Regions from separate parts of the Homo sapiens genome. Here all the other regions are linked to region 2. The links come from fine-mapping of genetic effects on gene expression. A gene starts in region 2. Each other region holds a variant in brackets. All regions are shown on one strand. Distances are from middle to middle. Region 1 overlaps CARS2 (cysteinyl-tRNA synthetase 2, mitochondrial). Region 2 holds the start of CARS2 (cysteinyl-tRNA synthetase 2, mitochondrial). Region 3 has its middle 21 kb from the start of ING1. Region 4 overlaps CARS2 (cysteinyl-tRNA synthetase 2, mitochondrial). Region 5 overlaps CARS2 (cysteinyl-tRNA synthetase 2, mitochondrial).

The links. PIP is the estimated chance that this variant, and not a neighbour inherited with it, causes the effect.
Region 1: its variant is the best candidate, but not a certain one, in a credible set for the expression of CARS2 in whole blood (INTERVAL, PIP 0.84).
Region 3: its variant is the best candidate, but not a certain one, in a credible set for the expression of CARS2 in skeletal muscle (FUSION, PIP 0.82).
Region 4: its variant is the best candidate, but not a certain one, in a credible set for the expression of CARS2 in whole blood (TOPMed, PIP 0.60).
Region 5: its variant is the best candidate, but not a certain one, in a credible set for the expression of CARS2 in blood mononuclear cells (TOPMed, PIP 0.84).

What each region holds. Positions count from the first base shown.
Region 1 is chr13:110,683,093-110,688,197 of GRCh38, reverse strand. CARS2 (cysteinyl-tRNA synthetase 2, mitochondrial) reads left to right here. Exons shown (of 15, transcript NM_024537.4): 4 at 180-251; 5 at 372-477; 6 at 5,064-5,105. Among named protein-coding and RNA genes, the nearest start is that of CARS2, 20 kb to the left of the region's middle. The variant A/C (reference allele first, on the strand shown) is at 2,651.
Region 2 is chr13:110,703,396-110,708,500 of GRCh38, reverse strand. CARS2 (cysteinyl-tRNA synthetase 2, mitochondrial) reads left to right here and starts at 2,385. Exons shown (of 15, transcript NM_024537.4): 1 at 2,385-2,631; 2 at 2,930-2,980. The coding sequence starts at 2,408. RefSeq lists enhancers at 1,458-1,577, 1,588-1,967 and a silencer at 2,018-2,577.
Region 3 is chr13:110,732,638-110,737,742 of GRCh38, reverse strand. No RefSeq gene overlaps it. Among named protein-coding and RNA genes, the nearest start is that of ING1, 21 kb to the right of the region's middle. The variant ACACACT/T (reference allele first, on the strand shown) is at 2,396.
Region 4 is chr13:110,645,582-110,650,686 of GRCh38, reverse strand. It overlaps CARS2 (cysteinyl-tRNA synthetase 2, mitochondrial), which reads left to right. Exons shown (of 15, transcript NM_024537.4): 11 at 3,448-3,586; 12 at 4,597-4,720. Among named protein-coding and RNA genes, the nearest start is that of NAXD-AS1, 32 kb to the right of the region's middle. RefSeq lists an enhancer at 1,100-1,599. The variant C/T (reference allele first, on the strand shown) is at 2,091.
Region 5 is chr13:110,655,559-110,660,663 of GRCh38, reverse strand. The region is part of intron 9 of CARS2 (cysteinyl-tRNA synthetase 2, mitochondrial); the gene reads left to right. Among named protein-coding and RNA genes, the nearest start is that of NAXD-AS1, 42 kb to the right of the region's middle. RefSeq lists an enhancer at 2,047-2,156. The variant G/C (reference allele first, on the strand shown) is at 2,925.

The DNA of each region.
Region 1 (5,105 bases), 20 kb after region 2:
CAGTACCTAAAATGAGTGCCCCCGCTTTGGTGAGTGGGTGGGGGCAAACTGAGGCCGAGGCACCGGAGGTGGCCGGGGTATGTTTGCTGTCGTGTTGTGCACGTGGGCTTTCTTGTGGCTGGGTGGTTCTGTTGCGAATGCCCCAGACTCATTAACGTGCACATCTAATCCTTCTGCAGATGAATATTTCCCCCGCTTCCCTCGCCAGTCTTTATGAGGAAGACTTCAAGCAGGACATGGCAGCCCTGAAGGTAAAGTGTGGGGCTGGTTGTTCCTGCCATGAGGGTGACAGGCGTGAGCAATGACAGCTGGTGCTGGCTGACCTGTGCTTCTCACGAGGGAAACACGGTCACGTCTCCACTTCCTTGCAGGTTCTCCCACCCACGGTGTACCTGAGGGTAACCGAAAATATTCCTCAGATAATTTCTTTCATTGAAGGAATCATTGCTCGTGGGAACGCTTATTCAACGGCAAAAGGTAGGGTTTATGTTCTTTTTTTTTTTTTCTTTTTTTTTTTTTGAGACAGAGTTTTACTCTGTCACCCAGGCTGGAGTGCAGTGGTGCTATCTCAGCTCACTGCAACCTCTGCCTCCCTGGTTCAAGCGATTCTCCCGTCTCAGCCTCCTGAATAGCTGGGACTACAAGGTGCGTGCCACCATGCCCGGCTACATTTTTTTTGTTTTGGTATTTTTAGTAGAGATAAGGTTTCACCATGTTGGCCAAGCTGGTCTCAAACTCCTGACCTTGTGATCCACCTGCCTCAGCCTCCCAAAGTGCTGGGATTACAGGCGTGAGCCACTGTGCCCAGCCGGTTTATGTTCTTAAAACTAAAACATTACTGGGATTTGGAGAAACTGGATGTATTTATCAGCTGTAGGAACATACTAAAATTTACTTCTGTCTTGCTAGGATTCCAACAGCAAAGCTGTTGTGGGGTTTTCTACAATATTGTGTCTCTTTGCGAAATGGTTGAATTAGTTCTAAATATCTTTTCCAGGGAGAGGGGAACGTCTGGACAGCTAGTCTTGGTAACAGTCGTGGAATCTAGGTGGTAGGTGTACAGGTGTTCATTGTGGTGTTATTTCATCTTTGTTTAGGTATTTTCCTAACAAAAAGTTGGGGACAAACACAGTACCTCCAGAGACCTGCTCTCTTCTTATTAAAAGTCAGCCCAGGTCACCCCCGTCTGTTTGGCTATCGTTTTTTCACAGGCCATTACGAGTGAGTTGCGGGAGTCAGAGGTTGCAGTGAGCCGAGATCACACCATTGCACTCCAGCCTGGTGACAGAGCAAGACTCCGTCCACCCACCCTCCCCTGCACAAAAAACAAAAAGTTGCAGGGCCAGGCATGGTGGCTGATGCCTGTAATCCCAGTACTTTGGGAGGTGGAAGCGGGTGGATCACTTGAGGCCAAGAATTTGAGACCAGCCTGGGTAACATGTTAAAACCTTCTTTCTACTAAGATGACAAAAAATCAGCCAGGCCTGGTATCGCGCGCCTGTGGTCCCAGCTATTCTGGAGGCTGAGGCATGAGAATTGCTTGCACCCAGGAGGCATAGTTTGCAGTGAGCCGAGATCACACCATTGTACTCCAGCCTGGGTGACATTGCCAGACTGTCTCAAAAAATAAAAATAAAAAAGTGAGTTGCAGGGCTGGGCGTGGTGGCTGATACCTATAATCCCAGCACTTTGGGAGGCAGAGGCAGGTGGATCACTTGAGTCCAGGAGTTCAGGACCAGCCTGGGCAACATGGAGAGACCCCTTCTCTACAAAAATAAAATATAAAAATTAGCTAGGCATGGTGGCGTGCTCCTGTAGTCTCAGCTACTCAGGAGGCCGAGGTGAGAGGATAGATTGAGCCCAGGAAATTCGAGGCTGCAGTGAACCATGATTGTCCCACTGCACACCAGCCTGGGAGACAGAGCGAGACCTTGTCTCAAAAAAAAAAAAAAAAAGCGTGAGTTGCAGATGTTCTGTCGCATCAGCCATGACACTTCAACATGCATCTCTGCATAAAAGGAGTCCAGATGTCATGGTCAGACCTCAGACAATGAAGAATTTCTGGCTAGCTTCGCGTGTCCTCTCTGTATTAAATATACTCACTTGTCCCCAGGGCATGTGCTGCGTGTGCATTTGTTGGTTTAGTCTCCTCACTTTTTCCCCTCCTCTTTCTTTTTTTCTTTTTTTCTCTTTTTTTTTTTTTTTCATTTTTTCTGGGTAAGCACATGTAGATTCAAGACTCTGACAGGTCAGTTTTCCTGTGGAGCAGTCTGTGTTTAGATTTGCATGTTGCTTACTGCAGGTGGTTTCATTGGTTTGCGGATGCTAATCTTTGTCTGGTGGACCCCAGGCAAGGCTGGCGTCTTGCTGTTTTGCTGCTTTGGTGATGAAGCATCGCCATAAATCCGAACTAAATCCCACCCATCCTGGCTGCAAACCCTGACCACAGCCTCATCTCTCCATGAAGTTCTCCTTCACCCAGCACAGTTGAAAGTGAACTTACTTTCTCAGCCTTGATATCTCTGCTGTACCATTTGGCAGCCAGTTCTGCACTGCCATAGTTTGCTGTTTAATGTATTCATATTTTGTCCCCATCTAGATCATAAATTCTCAGACCATAAAAACCTTTTGCTTTACTGAATGACGCCTT[A/C]AAGTATCCAGCCGACGGCTGAAGATACGTAGGTATTGAATGTTTGTTGCAATGAGTCAGAAAGCATGAAGCACTGCCCTGGACGTTCCTGTCCTTCCTGGGTCCTACTTGGAGCGTAAGATGAGCACGTGAGGCCCTGAGGATCTGCTCAGTAGGCTCTGTGTATGGAAGTAGCTTTTTACTTGTTCTAATGTGGTATATTTAGATTTTGTTTCAAAGAAAAACTTTTTTTTTTTTTGAGACAGAGTCTTGCTCTGTCGCCTAGGCTGGAGTGCAGTGGCACAATCTTGGCTCACAGCAACCTCCGCCTCCCGGGTTCAAGCAATTCTCCTGCCTCAGCCTCCCAGGAAAAACTTTTTTTAAAGGACTTAGGTGGTTGAATTAGAGTTTGCACCAGAAAACACAGGAATTAATTTTTTGCTGTCGTGTAACTTGAAATAAGATATGTGGGCCTGTGCTTCCATTTTAGGAATAAAGTGATAAATGTTCACGAGTCTTTAGGGATTCTCGTCTTCACAGGCTTGAGGATTGAATGCTGTTTGTTGTTTTGTTACTGTGTTTTATTATAAACAATTTAATGATAGTATAAATATAATTAATTCAAAATACACTTACATTCAATCAAACCCCAGTAATTTGGACTTTGTTACAATTCCACAAGGGCTTGGTTGTAATTTGATCTTTGAACTCTTGGTGAAAAACAATTTCTTCAGCAAATTGATAACATAAAGCAAAGTGAAGGGGGAATGTTTCCACCATTTAAGGGAGTGGTTTCTCTCCAGTGAAGCGCTTTTAAAGCACTGTTTATATTCTGACTTCATAGAAAGCAGCTCCCAGGGCCTGGATGTCCCCCTCCTGTCCTCTGGTTCATCCCCAGCACCGAGTGCCAGCTTAATGGTCAACCCTGAATGACCAGAGAGGACGCTGCAGGGACAGGGCAGGGTTTTCTGAGCACAATGGTCACTGGTGGGAGGAAAGGCCAGTGTGGCTTGGGCAAACAAAGCCGGGTGACATTTCAACAGAAAACCCTGCCCTGTCCCTTCAGCGTCCTCCCTGGTCATTCGGGGTTGACCACTAAGCTGGCACTCGGTGCTGGGGATGAACCAGAGGACAGGAGGGGGACATCCAGGCTGAGGACATGAGGCAGGTCCTGGGTGCAGCTTGTGTTTGCCAGTTGCAAAGTTTCCTTGATCTTACCAACACCAGTGTCCGCAGTAAGGACAGTACTGATGCAAATCAGTAACTGCATTAGTAAAAAAGAATGTGAAGACTCAAACTTTGTAAAGGCTAAAAGTTGCACCCACGCCTGGGGCCTGAGGACAGCTACATGCTGCTGTGTGGTTGGAGGGTGCTGGATGGTGGCTGCGGATCTGTGGTACTGAGAATGGCCATGGTCACAGCCCGGATGAGCATTGCCTCCTTCCTAGGGAGACACATGGCCTGGAACACACAGCGGCTGCAGCCGGGCAGCCTTGGAGCATAGGTTGGTAGTGCTTTCTTCTTGACAAAGCTCCCACTCTGAGTGCCTCCTCCCCAGCTCTGCTTTCTTAGGCTTTGTGGTGGAAGGGGCAAGGGCAGCCCAGGCTTGCAGGAGGCTCTGGAGAAGGTTCTGACCTCAGACTGCAAAGCGGACCTTGGCACTCAGCCTCACAGACACTTCAATATGCAGATGATTTTTTTGTGTGTTTTTTTTGGTAGAGATGGGGTCTCACTATGTTGCCCAGGCTGGTCTCGAACTCTTCAGCTCAAACAATCCTCCTGCCTCGGACTCCCAAAGTGCTGGGATTGGAGGCGTGAGCCACTGCACCCAGCCAGATGATGTTTTCAATCTGAGTAAAAAGGTAGTTTTAGAAGATGACTGGGCAAAGAAAGAGTGTCTTTGCTAGCTGGTGTGTAACATAAAGTAAAGAAAGAGTGTCTTTGTTAGCTGTTGTGTAACACAAGGCACAAGATCTAAATGAAGGTCAGTGATAACACTTTTCTTTTTTCTGATTAAATAATTGTCTCAGTAGTTTACAGAGAACTTACATTTGTGTTTTCACTTTCACGTCTGTGTACTCATGATATGTCCAAATCATGCATTTATCTTATAGTATTGTTTTTAATTCTGGTTAACAAATATATTAAGCCAGGCATGGTGTCACTCCTATAGCCCCACCTACTGGGAAGGTTGAGGTGGGAAGACTGCCTGAGCCAAGGAGTTCAAGGCTATCGTGAGCTGTGATTGTACCACTGCACTCCAGCCTGAGCAACAGCAAGACCCTGTCTATAAAAATATAAATACTATATATGTATATGGGGCCAAATGCTATGTTCTGTATTTAAATTCTAATTACTTGTTAGATGTTAAGGTTGTCAATATGCTGATATTCAGACTGAGAAGTGATGAATTCATAATTGTCTTTATAAACAGGCAATGTCTACTTCGATCTGAAGTCTAGAGGAGACAAGTATG
Region 2 (5,105 bases):
TGTTAATTTAAAAGTTGTGATGTTCTATGAACAATTCAAATATACCGCATGTCCAGATTCATGTGCAGATTTGATCTTCAGTGTTACTAAGCTGCTTTCAGAATCTCTGCTCCAGTTATTTCCTTGAATTCGTGTGTTCTCACAGATTGCAACTGAGCTTTTTGTTAATTTGCTTTATTTACTGGCACATCTAATATCTGAATCAGCTTTATCAGGTATTTTACTACCCAGATTTCTTCCCACCTGCACAATTAATCCCTTTCGTAAGGGATTAATTCATCAACATTCAACAAGCCCTTTTATTTCTTCTAAATTTTTTTTTTCCAGCCACAGCAAAACAAAACAAACAAAACCCAAGTCCTTTTCTGAATTTAGTGCAGGGCACAGTGAGAAGTTCAAAATAATGTACAATTTAAGATACTCAGGGAGATAAATATACACACAGCACTGGAAAGTTACAAAATAACATAAGGCAGGCAAGAAGTGATAATATTCAGGAGAATTTAGAGTAGTTAGGTAACATGAGTGGTTAGCATTGATGTAGGCTATAGGGTCTCCTAATTCTAACATTTTAACCTTATTAAATTAGACAATAGATTACATTAGACTACAGTTAGCTTGAAACAGAATTGCAGAGTTGGACTCCAGGATATTGAGAAACTACTCTAGGTACACACTTGTTTGTCTCTACTTAAACCTTTGCTTTTTAATAAAACACCAAAGCAAACTAAAAACAACAACAAAAAACCAGAGGAACGTCTCCTGTTTTGAGAACTGGAAAAGCAAAGGGGACTTTTTCTTTTTTTTGAGACATCGTATTGCAAGACACCAATAGAGGCACTTTTTTTTTTTTTCAGGCGGAGTCTCCCTCTGTTGCCCAGGCTGCAGTGCAGTGGTGTGACCTCAGCTCACTGTGAGCTCTGCCTCCTGGGTTCAAGCGATTCTCTTGTCTCAGCCTCCCCAGTAGCTGGGACTACAGATGCACGCCACCACGCCCGGCTAATTTGTGTATTTTTAGTAGAGACGGGGTTTCACCATATTGGTCAGGCTGGTCTCGAACTCCTGACCTCAGGTGATCCATCCGCCTCAGCCTCCCAAAGTGCTGGGATTACAGGTGTGAGCCACTGCGCCTGGCCCAATAGAGGCACGTTTGTCAAGCTATTGTGAGTAACTTTCAGAATGTTTTTGTTCTCAAGATACGGGATCATGGTGGGGGAGGCATGCTGTGTATTGGAGTGCAGACATGGTGTGTGTTGGGTTGCACACTGTGTATTGGGGTGCACACTGTATTGGGGTGTAGATGTGTGGGGGCGCACACTCTATTGAGGTGCACATTGCATTGGAATGCAGACAGTGTTTGCTGGGATGCACATGTGCTGTGTTGGGGTGCACACTGTACTGGGGTGCAGACATGGTGTGTGTTAGAGTGCACAGTGTATTAGGGGTGCACACTGTATTGGGGTGTACACTGTACTGGGGTGCAGACATGGTGTGTGCTGGGGTGCACACTGTATTGGAGTGCACACTGTATTGGGATGCTGATGTGGTGTGTGCTAGGGTGCATACTGTGTATTGGGGTGCAGACTGTATGCTGGGTTGCACACTGTGTATCGGGGTGCACTGTGTTGGGATGCTGATGGTGTGCTGCAGTGCACACTATTGGGGTGCAGATGTGTGTGCTGGGGTGCACACTGTATTGGGGTGCACACTGTATTGGGATGCTGATGTGTGTGCTGGGGTGCATACTGTGTATTGGGGTGCACACTTCTTGGGGTGCAGACTGTGTGTTGGGTTGCACATTGTGTATCGGGGTGCACTGTGTTGGGATGCTAACGGTGTGCTGCAGTGCACACTGTATTGGGGCGCAGATGTGTGTTTGGGGTGCACACTGTATTGGGGTGCACACTGTATTGGGGTGCTGACGTGTGTTCTGGGGTGGACACTGTGTATTAGCGTGCTGACGTGGGCTGTGCTGGGATGCACACGTGCTTCGCTAACAGGCCAGGGCCCGGCAACAGAAGCTTGCACTGTAAACGCTCCTCCCGCGCGGCGGACACAGCTCCAGGCTGGTACCGCGCGCACACGGACGCCTCGCAGGACCTGGGCTAATAAGGAGAGGAGATCGGCACGGTACCGCCTCTTCCCACGGCCTCCCGGCGCGGCACCGCCCTCCTCCCTCCACCCCGGGCCTTCCCCGCCCCAACCTCTTCGGGCCCTGGTTCTCCACCCTTGCCGCGGGCGACTCGAGCCAGGCCAAAGGGAGGCGCTACCTGAGGACTGCTTCCGGGAGTGGGCGTGGCCCCAAGGGCGTGGGCGGGGCGGGGCGGGGCCGTGCTGCTCTTGAGCGACCGGCAGCGTACCCGGCGTGGCTCCCGTCTCCGCCCAGTCGTAGGCGCTGGCCGCTGACATGTTGAGGACTACGCGCGGCCCAGGCCTGGGCCCCCCGCTGCTCCAGGCCGCGCTGGGCCTTGGGCGGGCTGGGTGGCACTGGCCTGCGGGCCGGGCGGCGAGCGGGGGGCGCGGGCGGGCCTGGCTGCAGCCCACGGGCCGGGAGACGGGTGTGCAGGTGTACAACAGCCTCACCGGGAGGAAGGAACCCCTAATCGTGGCGCACGCCGAAGCCGCCTCCTGGTGGGCCGCGCGGGACTGGGGCACGGGCGGGGGCCGATCGTGGCGGAGACTTCCCACGGCTGAACGGGATCTGGGCTCGGGGAGGGCGTTTAGGAAGCTGCATGGAGGGCGCCGTTCTAGAAGCTGGGGGTGCGCGGTGCTTTTGCAGGTTTGGGTGTGAATTGAGCAAGTATGAAAACCCCGGCTATTCATCCCCCAGAAGTGATTACTTTAAAAATTATATGATCATTATAACTCAGAATCGAATGTCCTTTCTTGCAAATATGTTCCACACGATGGATTTTAACTTTGTTTCCAGGTATAGCTGTGGACCAACTGTATATGATCATGCGCACCTTGGCCATGCTTGGTGAGTTTCCTGGATTTGAATTTTCATACTTCAAAGGACCATTTATTTTTGAAAGCCTTTTGCTGATTTCTTTTATCTCTTAAGTGGCAACTTAGGGATGCAGAATAATTCCTACATTCCAGGCATTGTGGGAAATGTTACAACCTCATTTGGTTCTTATAGGGATTCTGAGCACTTACACCCGTTTTACAGGTGAGGAAACTCAGGGAGACAATGGAGCACTGAAAAATGACCCGTTTTGGAACTAGATGTTTTTTGCTGGGTTTAGTGACATCAAGAGGCCTTTGCGGGGTCCCGGGGTCCTGCTGATCAGTCATTCCTGGGCCCCACCACTTCTTAGCTTCACAGCACTGAGCAGGTCACTTTATTGCTTTGAGTCCTGGTTTCTTCATCTTTGAGATGGGAATGATAACTTGGATCTTATAACAATTTTAGTAAATAATGCCCATAAAATGCTGCTTAACACTGTACCTCACATGTGAGATGTCACGGGGCTCAATAGTGATTGAGTAACTTTCCTAAGATGACACATTGAAGAGGTATTGGAACTGGGGTGAGGCTTGGTTTCTCTGACTGCGAAGTGGTTGCTCTCTTGACCTCTTTAACTGTAAGATGTACTGCCTCCTACATTTGCCAAAATTACCACTTTTCCTAATATTTTGTACATTTCCAAAATATAATGTACAAAAATGACATATTATAGATTTTTTAAAACTTAGTATTGTTCAGTCCTAGACTAAAAGTAAAAAGTTACATTTACTCTGTATACTTTTTTTTTTTCTTGAGACGGAGTCGCTCTGTCGCCCAGGCTGGAGTGCAGTGGTGCAATCTCGGCTCACTGCAACCTCTGCCTCCCAGGTCCAGTTGCCGCCTCCTGGCAGCAATTCTCCTGCCTCAGCCTCCGGAGTAGCTGGGATTACAGGCATGTACCACCACGCCCGGCTAATTTTTGTATTTTTAGTAGAGACGGAGTTTCACCATGTCAGCCAGGCTGGTCTCGAACTCCTGACCTCAAATGATCCACCTGCCTTGGCCTCCCAAAGTGTTGGGATTACAGGCATGAACCACCATGCCCGGCATACTCTGTATACTTTAAATATACATTTTTCCCCTTTACTTTGGGCTAACATACTTTTAATTATCAAAAGCATATTTCGACATCTTTCTTGAATTATAAAATATGTTGGGGAAATATTAAAAACAAAACCCCCACCCTGGAAAACCTTTCCACAAAGGTAGAAGAGAAAGAAAACAGTTCTGTTACTGAATAAGCCTTAAACCAGAAGGGGATGAGCTAAAATAACTGCAAAGACAGAAAGAAATCTCATCCTTCTATGGAGCTTTGGGGATACAGCCTGTCTCAGTCTATGAGTCTGCTGTAACAAAATATCCTAAAATGGATGACTTATAAACAACAGAAATTTCTTTCTTTCTGGGGCTAGGAAGTCCAAGATGAAGGCACCAGCAAATTTGGTGTCTGTTGAGGGTCTGCCTGCTGTGTCCTCACATGGTAGAAGGTAGAGGGAATTCTCTGAGGTCTCTTCTATGAGGGCATTAACCCCAGTCATGAGCTCTCTGCCTCCATGACTTTGTCACTCCCAGAGGCTCCACCTCCTAAAACCGTCACCTTGGGAGTTAGGGTTTCAACCATGAATTTGGAGGGAAGACAAACATTCAGACCATAGCATAACCCATTGCTTCAGGTGAGTTACAGTGTGGAGTCAGATGACAAGGTAGGCCCATCTCCTCCCAGGACACTGGGAAACGGGGCGTTATTTTCCTTGATTACATTTCAGAGGTGGGTCCCAGGTTTTGAAATTTTCTTGAGTTGTAAAACTGCCAAGAGGTTTATTTAGCCATTTAAAAGATTGACATGCATTTGAAGAGGACTGAGGAAGAAATCCTAAAAGTTGTTGGGGAGAGAATCTCTTCTCATTTCCAACTAGGAGAGTCAAGTCTTGCAGTTTAAATTTGTATAATATTTACCTTTATGACTACAGAAAAGAATACACATCTTAAGTGCGCAGCTGAATGCATGTTATAAGCTGTGTCCACACAGGGCCTTCCCAGGGGCTGGTGGGAGCTTGGGACTCTCCTGTTGACCACCTTCCTGTCAGCCTGGCCA
Region 3 (5,105 bases), 29 kb before region 2:
GTGGAGCAGGAGAGAGAGTGAGCAATGGGGGAAGTACCCCACATTTTCAAACAACCTGATCTTGTGAGAACTCACTATCATGAGAAGAGTAAGGGGGAAGTCTGCCCCCATGATTCAATCACCTCCCACCAGGCCCCTTCCCAAACACATGGGGATTACAATTGGAGAAGAGATTTGGGTGGGGACACAGAGCCAAAGTATATCCACCATATACATATAGCATATACATATATACACATATATACACACCATATACCATAAATATACACAGACGCATATACGTACATACATGTATAAAATGTGGGTATATATGTACATATACATATATGTATATGCATATAGCACATATATACACATAGAGTAATATATATGTACATGTATATACATAGGACACACACAAAAGTGAAAACTTGTAGAAATAAAAGAAACTAACAAATCCACAACCATATAAATTACATGAATACACTTTTCTTAGAAATTGACAGATTAAATAATTGTGGCTACACAATGTCTAAATAATAGGAGATTGACCACATGCAAGAATATCAGAGGGACAAAAAGATTTCTAAAAAGCAGAAATCAGGCCAGGTGTGGTGACTTATGCCTGTAATCCCAGCACTGTGGGACGCTGAGGTGGGCAGATCATGGTCAAGAGCTCGAGACCATCCTGGCCAACATGGTGAAACCCCATCTCTACTAAAAATACAAAAATTAGCTGGGCGTGGTGGCACGCGCCTGTAGTCCCAGCTACACTGGAGGCTGAGGTAGAAGAATCACTTGAACCCGGGAGGCAGAGGTTGCAGTGAGCTGAGATTGTGCCACTGCACTCCAGCCTGGTGACAGAGTGAGACTCCATCTCAAAAAAAAAAAAAAAAAAAAAGCAGAAATCATGAGGACCAGAGAATGCCTGGCCACAGCATCATAAAATCAGTGATAAAATTAATAGGATAGCTGAAGGAGAGTATTATACCTATGAAAAATTTAAAATGTGCTTCTAAGTAACTACTCACAGAAAATATAAAATTAAAAATACAGTCTATTAGAAATGAATGACATTATAAATATGCAGGATGCAAACAAAGGAGTATTTGGATGAAATTTTACGGTGTTAAATTCATGTATTGGAAAACCAGAAAGACTGAAAATACAAGAGGCTTTTAACTCAAGAAGCTATGAGAAAAAAAACTGAAAGAAATGTAAAAATCAGGCTGATAATATAATAAATCAATAAAAGAAAAATAATAACAGGCCGGGCATAGTGGCTCATGCCTGTAATCCCAGCACTGTGGAGGCCAAGGCAGGTGGATTACCTCAGGTCAGGAGTTCGAGACCAGCCTGGCCAACATGGTGAAACCCCATCTCTACTAAAAACACAAAAATTAGCCAGGGGTGGTGGTGTGTGCCTGTAATCTCAGCTGCTTGGGAGGCTGAGGCAGGAGAATTGCTTAAGCCTGGAAGGAAGAGGCTGCAGTGAGCCAAGATATCACCATCACACTCCAGCCTGGGCAACAGAGCAAGATTCCATCTCAAATAAAAAAAATAAAAAAAAGAATAGATTTAATCAATAAAACCAAATACTGGTTTATTGTAAAGATCAATTAAATGGACTAGTATGTGACAAGCCAATTTAAGAAATAAGAGAGAAGATACAATCGATAATATTAGAAATGAGAAAGGTGATACAACCAGAGTCATCAAGGTGATGAAAAAGTAAGTGCTATGTTCAACAGTATGCCAATGCATTTTAAGACCTAGATGAAATAGAACATTTTCATGGAAAATATAATATGGGATAAAGAAAATAGAAAGTGATAACACTGAGTCAAGAAGAGATAGAGGCCAGGCACAGTGGCTCATGCCTGTAATCCCAGCACTTTGGGAGGCTGAGGCGGGCAGATCATCTGAGGCCAGGAGTTCAAGACCAGCCTGGTCAACATGGTGAAACTGTGTCTCTACTAAAAATACAAACATTAGCCAGGCGCAGTGGCATACCCCTGTAATCCCACCTACAGGGGAGGCTGAGGCAGGAGAATCGTTTGAACCCAGGTGGTGGAGGTTGCAGTGAGCCGAGATCGTGCCACTGCACGCCAGCCTGGGCGACAGAGCAAGACTCTGTCTCAACAACAACAACAAAAAAAAGAGATAGAGACCCTGAAGAGAAGAAATTGAAAAGGTAGTCAAAGACTTACTGCAAAGATTATTGTTTGCCTATTATTTCTAACAAATATTCAAGGGACAAATAATTCCTTGAAGAGGAATTTGCCCTCGAAGGATAAATAAATGCTTCCAGGGCATTAAAAAAAAAAAAAAAAGGTAAACCTCCTAAATTCATTCCATAAGGTTAATATACTCCACACACACACACACACACACACACACACACACACACACACAC[ACACACT/T]ACAAGAATAGCTTTTTTAAAAGCCCCATCTCAGAGACACAAACTTACTAATAGAATATTATCAAATCAGGCCTGTCATACCAGCACTTTGGGAGGCCCAGGGAGCCGGATCACTTGAGGTCAGGAGCTCGAGACCAGCCTGGCCAACATGGCGAAACCTTGTCTCTACTAAAAATACAAAAATTAGCCGGGTGTGGTGGCGGGTGACTATAATCCCAGTTACTCGGGAGGCTGAGGCAGGAGAATCACTTGAACCCGGCAGGTGGAGGTTGCAGTGAGTCAAGATTGTGTCACTACACTCCAGTCTGGGTGACAGAGCAAGACTCTGTCTCAAAAAATTATCAAATCAAATACAGTGGTGACTAAAAGAATAATCCATCACAGCCAGGAAGAGTCCATCCCAATAATGCCAAGATTTTTCGAAATTCATTTATTATTATTATTGTTTTTTAAGCTACATATGCTGGAATGGGATCAAAATTTACTGAATTGAAAAAAAAAAGGCCAGTATGGTGTCTCACATCTATAATCCCAACTGCTCAGGAGGCTGAGGCAGGAGGATTGCTTAAGTCCAGGAGTTCAAGGCTGCCGTGAGCTTTGATCGTAGCACTGCACTCCAGCCTGGGTGACACAATGAGACCGTGTCCCTAAAATAAATAAATAAATGGAGAAGATCCACACGTAGCTCACATAGCTATCCTCAGCCTCAACCCCAAAAAAGTATTTGACAGAATTCAGCATTAACTTCTGGCAATACTCTAAAAATACCAAAAATCATAAAAGAAACTTGCCTGTACCTGACAAAACAATATTTTTTGGAAATACCTGGCACATCAGAATAATGGTGACATATTCAAAGCATTTCCATTTGAATCAGAACAAGACTCTGATGCCTGCTATTGCCAACTGTACTTAACCTTTCATTGAAGTCCCAGCTCATTCAGTAAGAGGGAATTAAAGGACGAAAGGAAAGGAAGCAGAGATGCCCACTATCAGTCACGGGCATGGCACTGGCAATGTTGTACTGACAGTCCTCTACCTAGAAAGTCTACGAGAGTCAACTGACAAACTTCTAGAACAAATGAGAAATATCAGCAAGGTGGCCAGATCTGAGATCAACCTACAAACATTAACTTGTTATTACATGTAAATAGGAACCAATGGAGCAAAGTCATGGAAAAAAGATCCATGTGTGGTAGCAACTAAAACACAACACACCAGAAAGAAATGTGAAGAAAACTGTAAAATATAACTGAAGGCTATCATAGATAGCGTGAATAAATGGAAATACTTCATATTCTGCATGAGAAGATTCATGTTCCAAACGTATAGGTGTTCTCCAAGTTAATCTATAATCATTAACGGAAGTGATATGGTTAGGATCTGTGTCCCTGCCCAAATCGCAGGTCAAATTGTAATCTCCCTTGTTGGAGGAGGGGCCTGGTGGGAAGTGACTATGTCATGGGGGTGGATTTCCCCCCTTGCTGTTCTTGTGATAGTGAGTTCTCACAAGATCTGGTTGTTTAAAAGTGTGTAGCACCTCCCCCTTCACTCTCTTTCTCCTTCTCCGGCCATGAAGGACATACCTGCTTCCCCTTTGCCTTTCACCATGATTGTAAGTTTCCCGAGGCCTCCCCAGCCATGCTTCCTGTACAGCCTGCAGAACCATAGGCCAATTAAACCTCTTTTCACAAATTACCCAGTCTCGTGCAGTTCTTTATAGCAATGCAAAAATGAACTATACAGGAAGCAAACAGAGCGCTTGCCTTATTAAATATTAAAAAGTACTATAAAGCTAGTGAAATGAAAACAGTGAAGATTTTTCACTGACATAAATGAATAAATCAGTGGAAACTAACTGAGACACCCACGTGTCTATGAAAATTTAATATATCATAGAGCTGACATTTCATGAATGAGAAGGTAATGGAGTATTCAATACTGGCTTGAGACAATGACCATCTATTTGAGGAAATACTTAGAGGGGTTAATACACATCATTAAGTTATGGCCACTTTTACATATATTATCTGATATGGTTTGGCTCTGTGTCCCCACCCAAATCTCATCTCGAATTGTAATCCCCACATGTCAAGGGAGGGACCTGGGTGAGTCATGGGGGTGGATTTTCCCCATGCTGTTCTTGTTACAGTGAGTTCGTTCTGACAAGCTCTGATGGTTTAAAAGTGCGGCACTTACCCTTTGCTCTCTCTCTCTTCTTCCACCATTAAGACGTGCCTTGCTTCCCCTTCACCTTCCGCCATGATTGTAAGTTTCCTGAGGCCTCCCCGGCCATGCCGAACTGTGAGTCAACTAAATGTCTTTTCTTCATGAATTACCCAGTCTCAGGCAGTTCTTTATAGCAGTGTGAAAATGGACTAATACATTATCTCATTTGAACGTCGTATGAATTAACACTCTGAGGGGTAGGCATCATTACTCATTTTATAAATGAGGAACGAAGGGTCAAGGAAATGAAGAAATTCCACCCAGATCACACAGCTGGTACGTGCCAGAGACTGAAACCAGGTCCTCTGGCTTCAGGGCCAGCACTCTTTCCCTATACCACATGGCATCCCTCACATTCTTCCATTTTGTCAAAGAATTTCAGTGACTCCCCACCCTAAAAACCAAAATAAATTCCAGATGGATAAAAGAGATATTTGAAAAACATGTAAAGACTGTAAGAGAATATTTTATAATT
Region 4 (5,105 bases), 58 kb after region 2:
CTCAAACGTGACCCTGCCTGTCCTGCCCAGGGGCAGCACTTCCCCGAACGGTGTGTAGCAGAGCAAGGTCTCCTGGATGGGTGATGACGGTTCCTCCCATGCTGCACAGTTACCTGCTGCCCCGGGCTAGGCTCTTGGCCAGGAGTTGTCTAGCACTGGCCTGGCATGGTGGCTCACGTGTATGATCCCAGCACTTTGGGAGGCCGAGGCTGGCAGATGTTTTGAGTCCAGGAGTTTGAGACCCGCCTGGGCAACATAGTGAGATCTTATCTCTACAAAAAATACAAAAGGCCTGGCACGATGGCTCACACCTGTAATCTCAACACTTTGGGAGGCTGAGGCAGGTGGATCACTTGAGGTCAGGAGTTCGAGACCAGTTTGGCCAACGTGGTAAAACCCCATCTCTCCTAAAAATACAAAAATTAGCCAGGCATGGCGATGTGTGCCTGTAATCCCAGCTACTCAGGAGGGTGAAGCAGGAGAATTGCTTGAACCTGGGAGGCAGAGGCTGCAGTGAGCCATGATCATGCCACTGCTCTCTAGCCTGGGTGGCTGAGCAAGACTCCATCTGAAAAAAATACAAAAAAATTGGCTTGGTGGCATGCACCTGTAATCTCAGCTACTCAGGAGGCTGAGGCAGGAGAATCACTTCAACCCAGGAGGCGGAGGTGCAGTGAGCTGAGATCGCACCACTGCACTCCAGCCTGGGTAACAGAGCAAGACCCTGTCTCAAAAAAAAAAAAAAAAAAAAAAAAGTCGTTATCCAGAGCTGCATCCCTGGTGGCAAGTGAGGGCTGGGGACAGTGATACTGCCCTGCCTGGCTTGACCACCTAACTGGCAATAAGGTCCCAGTGTATGGCTAGTGCTGCAGGAGCAGGGCCAGTGTCCTCTGGAGATGGTGACAGTTCCTTCCTGGTGAGCGAGGGTTGCTGTCCTTCTGGCCTCTGGTGTCCCCTCTGCTCCATTGACACTGCCGAGGCCCTGGGTCGCTGCTGTTGTCATGCCACCTCCCTCTCCCCCTTCTTGTCCCTCCTACGTAGCTCTCTTGCTCCAAATTGATGATTTCACCTTTTTAATGAAGACGATGGGAGTGGGGACATGCAGCCGAAACATAGTTTATTCTCATTCCCCCATGGGGTGAATCTATCTGGCCAGCACACTTTATGTCACACACAAAGCTTTGGTGGGTTTGGGTGAGCCCCTGGGCTGGTCCCCTATCCATCTCCCTCCCCTGTGCTGTGCCTGCAGAATTTCACCCGGCCTGCAGCTCCTGTCAGCGTGAGAGGGGCACACAGACACCTGCACCTTTGACCACCGAAAGGCTACCTTGGGCCATGTCTTTATCCTGGCTCTGACGCCACGTCGTTGGCTTTCTACTGCAAACTCAGGTTTTCTGAGACGTGGTCTGAACCTCTCCCCTGGGTGGAACTGCAGTGCATCGGCCCAGGGGACCTGCGCTCACGGGCGCACGAGCTTGAGAAAGAAGTGTGGCCAGCCTCGTGCTCGCCTGGCCTCGTGCAGCATCTGTGTGTGGTGTGCACTTACGCGTGATGAAAGCAGCCCAGCCGTGCCGTGAGAGGAAGAGTCGGGGAGGCGAATGGGCTGGAGAAACTGTTTCCGCCTGGCTCCGTGTTGCTGGAAACGGGCAGAGGCGGCGGAGATGAATCCCGTGTGCGAGCGCAGAGCTCTCTTCCCGGCTCGTGCTTGCTCCCCTCGTGGCTGGGGGCTGTGGTCCTTTCAAAGCTGTTCCCTGCGGATCCCTTCCCAGGGGCACTTTGCCCTCGGAAGCCCCGCCTCCCTTCTCGCAGATTGTGGCAGGATTAGGGGCAGCATCTTGTATGACTGTCCTAATTGTGTGCAGTTCTTTTTGAGCTTTGAATACGAAGTTTGGTCTGAAAAGAGGCTTTCTCAAGCCTGGGCAGCTCTTTCAGGAACACATTCCCAGTGGGAATTTTGGGTGGGATTCAGGAGGCACCGATCTGCCAGTGAGGGATTTCTAGGAACACAAGGTTAGTCAGGACGTGGATCCCCACAGTGGACACGACTGCCCCACCCCGCCGAGGTCGGAGGTGGCCTTGAGGAGCTGGGC[C/T]GTCGCTTGCTGTCTGAGCTTCCATCCACGAATGGTGTGGGAGTTCGGGATCTTCCCAGACATTCTTTCTTCACCTTTGGGAAGATGGAGGGGGACGGTGGTGGCATCCCTTGCAGTCTGTGCTGCGCTGACACTTTGGAGAAGTGTCTCCCATCTGTAGAGCAGAATCCTCTTTGGAGAAATGCAGCTGTCCTTGACCTTGAGGCAGAAGGCGTCTCCATCCTGGGCATCTGTCTGCCCCTCCCCATCTGGATGCCTCATCTTGCTGTGTCATTAATGGTAATCTTATTCTAACAGCCTCCCATGCATCAACTCTATCAGTCCCCGAATATTATCTTTAAATTTTGTCAGATCGCTTTGTGGGTTTCTGGCTTTTTCTCTTTTCTATCAAGCTATTCAAAGCAAAAACTGAAAGTGAATTTAGAAAAAAAGGAAAAATGTTAAGTAAGATATTAGACAGCCCTGGGGGAGGTTTTCACTGTGTTGCTTCCAGCTTGAAGCCATGTCTGATTTTGGAATTCTCGTTTTGAAGTCAGGACTTGGAGGCATGTTGAGATGTAATTTTCAGCATATGTGTCCAGATAGGCTCTTTTTATTCTTGTGGTTTTCAAAGAGCTGTTTAAAGCAGCACTCCTCAAAAGCATGGACTGTGGACTCAGACAGCCTGGGAAACAGAGTAGGCACGAGAAGGTTCTAGAAATATGTGGCTGGCTTTGCTGATATCCAAGGATATGTGATCATTGCAAAGCGATTCACTCCTGTTGTCTTACCCATCAGAATGCAGTAGACTAGAAACCACAAGAAATGAACAGATGTAAACAGAAACACTGGCCCCTCATCCAGGTGGCCTAAGAAACACCCACAGACTCTAAAGCCAGGTCTGGGGACTGCTCCTCCCTCCCTCTTTGGGCTGTCCCATCACACACAGGCACTTTCCCTCGGGAGGGCCTTCCCTAGAGGTGCCTCTGACCCCAGGGCGGGGCTCCCTCTTTCCAGAGCTAGCCATTCATCCGCACCTCCATCCATCCAGGGCGGGGCTCCTTCTTTCCAGAGCCAGCCATTCATCCGCACCTCCATCCAGTCAGTGGAAATGCACCTCTTGGCTGGAAGCACTGGGAGCATGTCTCCACCGCCACCTTGTTCTCCCACGGCAGGTGCCACTGAGCTGGGACAGACCCTGTGGTCTGTGTCCAGTGGGCCTAGGGACTCGCGGTCACTGGAGGGCGTGAGAGCCACATGTCCCGCTCTCCGTGTGGTCCCTGGGTGGCAGTGCCCTCAGAAAACACTGATTCTGCTGGACCAGGGCAGGGGCACAGCATGGTGGGCACCGCCTCAGTGACCATCTCTTCCTCCTCAGCCATCGACTACAGTGACAGCGCCATGCTCCAAGCTCAGCAGCTGCTCCTGGGGCTGGGCTCTTTCCTGGAGGACGCACGTGCCTACATGAAGGGGCAGCTGGCCTGCGGCTCCGTCAGGGAAGCGATGCTGTGGGAGAGGTAAGAGGCCCGCCTAGCACCCGGCGTGGCACCCCTCCTGTGGCCTGCTGGGTGCTGCTGGTGGGCTCTTGAAGGGGAAGAGGGGCCCCCAGGAGACAGGGCGCTGGACAGGAGGTTTGGGGTCAGGGACTGCCCAGAGAGGCCCCAGGAGACAGGGTGCTGGGCAGGAGGTGCAGGTGTGGGGTCAGGGGCTCCCCAGAGGCCACAGGGGACTGGGAGCTGGACAGGAGGTGTGGGGTCAGGGGCTCCCCAGAGGCCACAGGACACTGGGTGCTGGACAGGAGGTGTGGGGTCAGGGGCTCCCGAGACATCCCAGGGAGACGGCGCTGGCAGGAAGTGTGCCTGGGGCCCTCGGGCTCTGAGCCCCCTGCTCAGAGTGGCTTTGGGCTCGGGTTCCCTGTGCGAGGAGCGGAGCTGCTCATCCCTCCCAGTCCTGACTGTGAGGAGCCAAAATCTATAAAACACACAGGCCTGGGCCCACAGCATCGCCTCCACTCCCCACCCACGGGTGTCCTGGGCAGCGCTGCACATTCATCCCGGCATGCAGAGTCTTCCGGATGGTCTTGGTGATAACCCACCCCTGCCACTTCAGCAGGGTAGGCAGCCAGTGGCCACGGGAGGCTGAGATCCGGGAGCCCCGGGCTGGGCCTCCCCAGCCTCTCTTTGTGAGTGGTCAGCCGTGCCGTCTCTCCCCCACCGAGTCTTCCTTGCCACTCCCCTCAATATCTATTGATTTTTAAAACCATCATGAAAATGCCCACGTGTGTCTTGTATTTTAAGTGTCACAGGTGACCTCTGCTCTGGGACTTTTTCTTGGGGTAACATGACAGTTTGCAGTTGATGTTACATAATTTTCTGCTACTCAGGAACTCAAGTCTTTGGGAATATGACCTAGAGAAAGTCCCCAGATTAGAGCCCCCAGCGTCTCTCCCTGGGGAAGGACTGGTGTGGGGGCCGCCTGGGGAGAGTGGAGCTCCCTCTGCTGTGACTGTTCTCTCCTCTTCCCTCAGGCTCTCCAGCACCAAGAGGGCCGTGAAGGCGGCCTTGGCAGATGATTTTGACACACCCAGGGTGGTTGATGCCATCCTGGGCCTTGCACACCACGGGAATGGACAGCTCAGGGCGTCCCTGAAGGTAGCTCAACGAACAGGTGGCCTTGCGGTCCTGCTGCCAGGGGCATGGGTCGGGTCCTCTGGTGGGTTTTTCTCATGTCGGCTGGGTGGCATCTCTGCTGATTTCGCCTCCCGCAGCTTCTGTGGAGGAACTCATGGAGCCCGAGTCTGCCGCTGACACACGGGATGGCACCCAGCCTGGGGCTTGACCCTCCCGGGCCTCAGGGCCACCTGGGGAACAAGCTCTCAGGAGCCCCTGAGGCTGAGAAATTCTGTGTGCTTGATCCTCAGGGGACACATCTCATGTCCCCACTGCATTCATGGCCCTTTCACAGAGAGAGCTTTTGTGGGGAACTTTTTAAGGAAAGACCCATTTACCCCAAGGCACTGTTATGCAATCTGCACCC
Region 5 (5,105 bases), 48 kb after region 2:
CCCACTGTTGAGACCTACTGCTCAGAAAAAAGGATTCCTTTCCAAATATTGACAGTGCACCTGGTCATCCAGGAGCTTTGATGGAGACATACAATGAGAGTAATATTGTTTTTATGCTGCTAACAGAACATTCTGCAGCCCATTGATCAAGGAATAATTTCAACTTTTAAGTCTTATTATTTAAGAAAAATATTTCATAAGGCTATAGCTGCCATAGATAGTGATTCCTCTGATGGAGCTGGGCAAAGTAAATTGGAAACCTTCTGGAAAGGATTCACCATTCTAGATGCCAGTAAGAACATGTATGATTGATGGGAATAGGTCAAAATATTAACATTAACAGGAGTTTGAAAGAAGTTAAGTCCAACTCTCATGGTTGACTTTGAGGGGTTCAGGACATCATTGGAGGAAGTCACTGCATATATGGTGGGAATAGCAAGAGAACTATTGGAATTGGAAATGGATCCTGGAGATGTGACTGAACTGCTGCAACCTCATGATAAAAGTTGAACAAACGAGGAGTTGCTTCTTATGGATGAGCAAAGAAAGTGGTTTCTTGAGATGGAATCTACTCCTGGTGAAGATGCTGTGGACATTGTTGAAATGACAACAAAGGATTTAGACTATTGCATAAATTTAGTTGATAAAGCAATGGCAGGGTTTGAGAGGATTGGCTCCAATTTTGAAAGACATTCTGCCGTGGGTAAAATGCTATCAAACATTGGATGCTACAGAGAAATCTTTCATGAAAGGAAGAGTCAATTGATGGCACAGACTTCATTATTGTCTTGTTTTAAGAAATTGCCACAGTAACTCAGCCTTCATCAACCACTACCTTGATCAGTCAGCAGCCATAATATTGAATCAAAACCTTCCACCAGCAAAAAGATGACTCACTGAAGGCTCATATGATTATCATTTTTGTTAGCAATAAAATATTTTTTCATTAAGGTACGTACATTGTTCTTTCAGACATAATGCTATTATATACTTAATAGACTGCAGTATAATAGTGTAAACATAACTTTTATATGCACTGGGAAACCAGAAAATATGTGTGCCTTGCTTTATTGTGATATTCGCTTTATTGTGGTGGTCTGGAACCAACCCTTCAGTATGTCTGAGGTCTGCCTGTGAACCATGCTAGGCCAAACAAAAAAAAAAAAGGAGATCTGGGCTTGAGGAGGGGCAGGCAAGTTTTGGGAGGGTGACTAGGAAAAGTGATAAACAAGGATTGTTGAGTAAAATTTGTTTTGCAGATTGAGCCTCTCTATTGAGAGTTGTTAGGGAGTCCTCACCCTGCTACAGCAGGATACATCTTTTACAACTGGGAGCTTTGTTTACAAGGAAAACTTGCACCCTGTTTTTAGAGCATTTCCTGCATCTGCTTGTTCTCAGTGGTCTTTAGCTCAAAATAATCTGTATGCCAGGGAGGCATATTCAGGGCTGGCAGGCTGTGGTACCCTTCAGGGGCTTTATCTGTGTTTATGGGAGTGGTGAGCGTGTGTGTGCATGTGCACATTTGTGTGAGCATGTATGCACATGGACACCTGTATATAATGCTTGTTATTGACCATTAGGAAATACATTGAAGACATCATCACACTTCTCTATTCTGTAACCAACTCCTAAAAATAAGGATGCTTTCCTACATAATCCAAACACCTAAAAAGTTAGCAGTAATTTCTTAATATTATCTAGTCTGTAGTCTGTTTTTCTTTTTTTGTTTGTTTGTTTTTTTGTTAGTCTCACTATCACCCAGGCTGGAGTACAGTGGCGTGATCTCAGCTCACTGCAACCTCCACCTCCCAGGTTCAAATGATTCTCCTGCCTCAGCCTACCGAGTAGCTGGGATTATAGGTGCACACCACCATGCCTGGCTAATTTTTGTTTTGTTTTGTTTAGTAGAGACAGGGTTTCACCATGTTGGCCAGGCTGGTCTGGAACTCCTGACCTCAGGTGATCCACCTGCCTCAGCCTCCCAAAGTGCTGGGATCACAGGCATGAGTCACTGCGCCTGGCCTGTTTTCTCCAGTTATCCCCAAAATGTGTTTTATACTTTTATTTTTAAACGAGGAGTTGATCAAGGTTCATATGTTGCATTTGTATGTTGTGTCTTTTTAGGGTTTTTTTTAATGTGGTTAAAAAAACCACGTAACATAAAAGTTATCATCTTAACCATACAGTTCAGTAGTGTTAATATGTTCACATTGTTATGCAACAGATCTCTAGAATTTTTTCATCTTGTAAAACCAAAACTGTGGACTCACTGAACAACTTCCCATTTCCCCTTTCCCCAGGCCTTGGCAACAACCCTTCTACTTTCTGTTTCTATGATTTTGGCTGCTCTAGATCTCGTGTAAGTGGACTCACATAGTAATTGTCCTTTTGTGACTGGCTTATTTCACTTAGCATGGTGTTCTCAAGATTCACCTGTGCTCCTTTATTCCATGTCAAAATTTCCTTCCTTTAGGCTGAATTATATTTCATTGTTCTTTCTAGGTTTCTAATCTAATCTACAGCAGTCTTTCTACTTTTATTTTTCCTGTGGTGTTGACTTTTTGAAGAGATTGAGCCACTTGTCTTGTTGAACATCCCACATTTTGGATTTGTCTGTTTCATTGTGTTGTCATTTAGCTTGTTCTTCTATCTCCTGTAGTTCGTTTCACGGGAAGTGAGGGTTAAAGGGTCAGTTTGATCCAGGTAGAAGCTTTTTGGCAGGAATACCTTGTAGTTGATGCTGTGAACTCACAGTGCATTCCCTGGGGGCTGCAAGGTCAGGTTGTCCTACGATTCATGATGGTGAGTTTTACCATTTGTTAAGGAATGACTACCAGATCCCTCTACTGCAGAGTTTATTTTCTTCTTATGAATATTAAGCATCTGAGAGGTGGCATGCTGCATGGTAATTTGTTTCCTAATAA[G/C]CTTCCACCCTATGGTTTTAGAGGCTTCACTTTGATCAGGTATTTCATTGGTTATTGCAAAGTCATGGTTGTCTAATTGTTCCCTCTTTTACATTTATTAGTTGGCATTCTTCTTAAAGAAAAGTGTTTTTGTCTTTCTTTTTTTAGTAGACAGAGTCAGTGATTTATATTTATTTAGTGTATTGTCAATTCAGTCATTATCTTTTGGGTGTTGAAATCATCCCGGATTTAGCCAGGGAGGGCTCTTCTGACTGGCTCCGGTCCCCCAGGGACAGACCCCTCGGCCTCTGTTGTGCCCTCCTGCACCTGCCTGCCTTTTGCTTTCCTACCCAGACCTGCCGTTTCTCCAAGCAGCCACCCTGCCTTTGAGGGGAAATGGGATTTTGAAGGCAAGATTTGGGCACTGCGATGTTGATTGCTACCAGAGTGACACTGCGTCTACGCTTTTTCAGGGGTCAGAGCTAGGGGAGAGGGAGATAAACCTGCACATACAAAATAGATTCCTTATTTGGGTTAATTTTGATATATCCAAATAAAATTTAATATCACAGGGCTTTTTAGTTTTAGCTCTTTATTTTCCTCTCTTACTAAACATAAGAGCATATCAACTTTTTGTTTTATCTTAAAATACACACAAAATAAATTTAAAAACTTAATACCAATATTACCATTAACAGTAAAACTATTGAGTAAAACTTAAGGCTTCTCTTATTTCTTTTTAAACTAATAGCTTTATTGAAATGTAATGCACATACTATATAAGTATACTATTTAAATGGTACTGCTTAGTGGTTTGTAAGATATTCGCAGTTGTGAAACGACCACTATCTAAGAACGTTTTTTTTTTTTTCTTTTTGAGACAGAGTCTCACTCTGTCGCCCAGGCTGGAGTGCAGTGGCACAATCTTGGCTCACTGCAAGCTCCGCCTTCCGGGTTCACGCCATTCTCCTGCCTCAGCCTCCTGAGTAGCTGGGACTACAGGCGCCCACCACCACGCCTGGCTAATTTTTTGTATTTTTAGTAGAGACGGGGTTTCACCATGTTAGCCAGGATGGTCTTGATCTCCTGACCTTGTGATCCACCTGCCTCGGCCTCCCAAAGTGCTGGGCTTACAGGCGTGAGCCACCACGCCCGGCCTCTAAGAACGTTTTTATCACCCCAAAAAGAAACGCCACATCCATGGGCCATCACTTCTCACTCCCACCTCCTCCCAGCCCCGACAGCCGCTCATCTACTTTCTGTTTCTGTGATTCACCTATTCTGGACTGAAATTTCTTTTTCTCGTGGACTGCACCCCACTAAAGCTCTGTGGTCTGAACATACACTCGCGGCATGTAATGATCTCCTTTCATTAACACAAGAGGTTCATTTGTTCTGTTTGTTTCCAGTGTGGTGGTCTCTCTCTTCCCCTTTTCAATTTACTTTTTGTTTTGTCTTTTTTGAGAGTCTTGCTCTGTCACCCAGGCTGTAGTGCATTAGTGTGATCTCAACTCACTGCAACCTCTGCCTCCCAGGTTCAAGTGATTCTCATGCCTCAGCCTCCCAGGTAGCTGGGATTACAGGCCTACACCACCACACCCAGCTAATTTTTGTATTTTTAGTGGAGATGGGGTTTCACCATGTTGGCCAGGCTGGTCTTGAACTCCTAACCTCAGGTCCACCTGCCTCGGCCTCCCAAAGTGCTGGGATTACAGGCGTGAGCCACTGCATCCAGTCCCAATTTACTTTTATTTGTCATATCTGTGAAACATTTGCAGGGTTCAGCATTAACACTAAAGAGAGCATGGAGAAGGCTGGCCTGGAGCCCGCCTGCACCCATTCCTTCCCCAGCAGCCACAGTTGTGTTCTCTGTTTTGGATTCATCTTCCTGTGTTCCGTTACACACGATAGGCCAATACACATAAACCTTTCTCCTCTGTCTCATTCATGAGGCAGTGTCGTATGCATGCCGCCTCTTCCCTAACAATTTAAGTGAGGTTTTAATTTGATTATAGACATGATGGGTTTAATTTCAGAAAGTTTGAAAACTGCAGACAAGACAGAGAACCACACGGTAGAAAAATTCAAAGGTACTAAGTCTGGAAAGCAGGCCTCCTGCCCGACCACGTTCACTGTTGCCCGGCTTCTCTCCTGAAGCAGCGGTTAGTTTTCTCGGAGCAGGTGTGTGTGTGCACACATCTC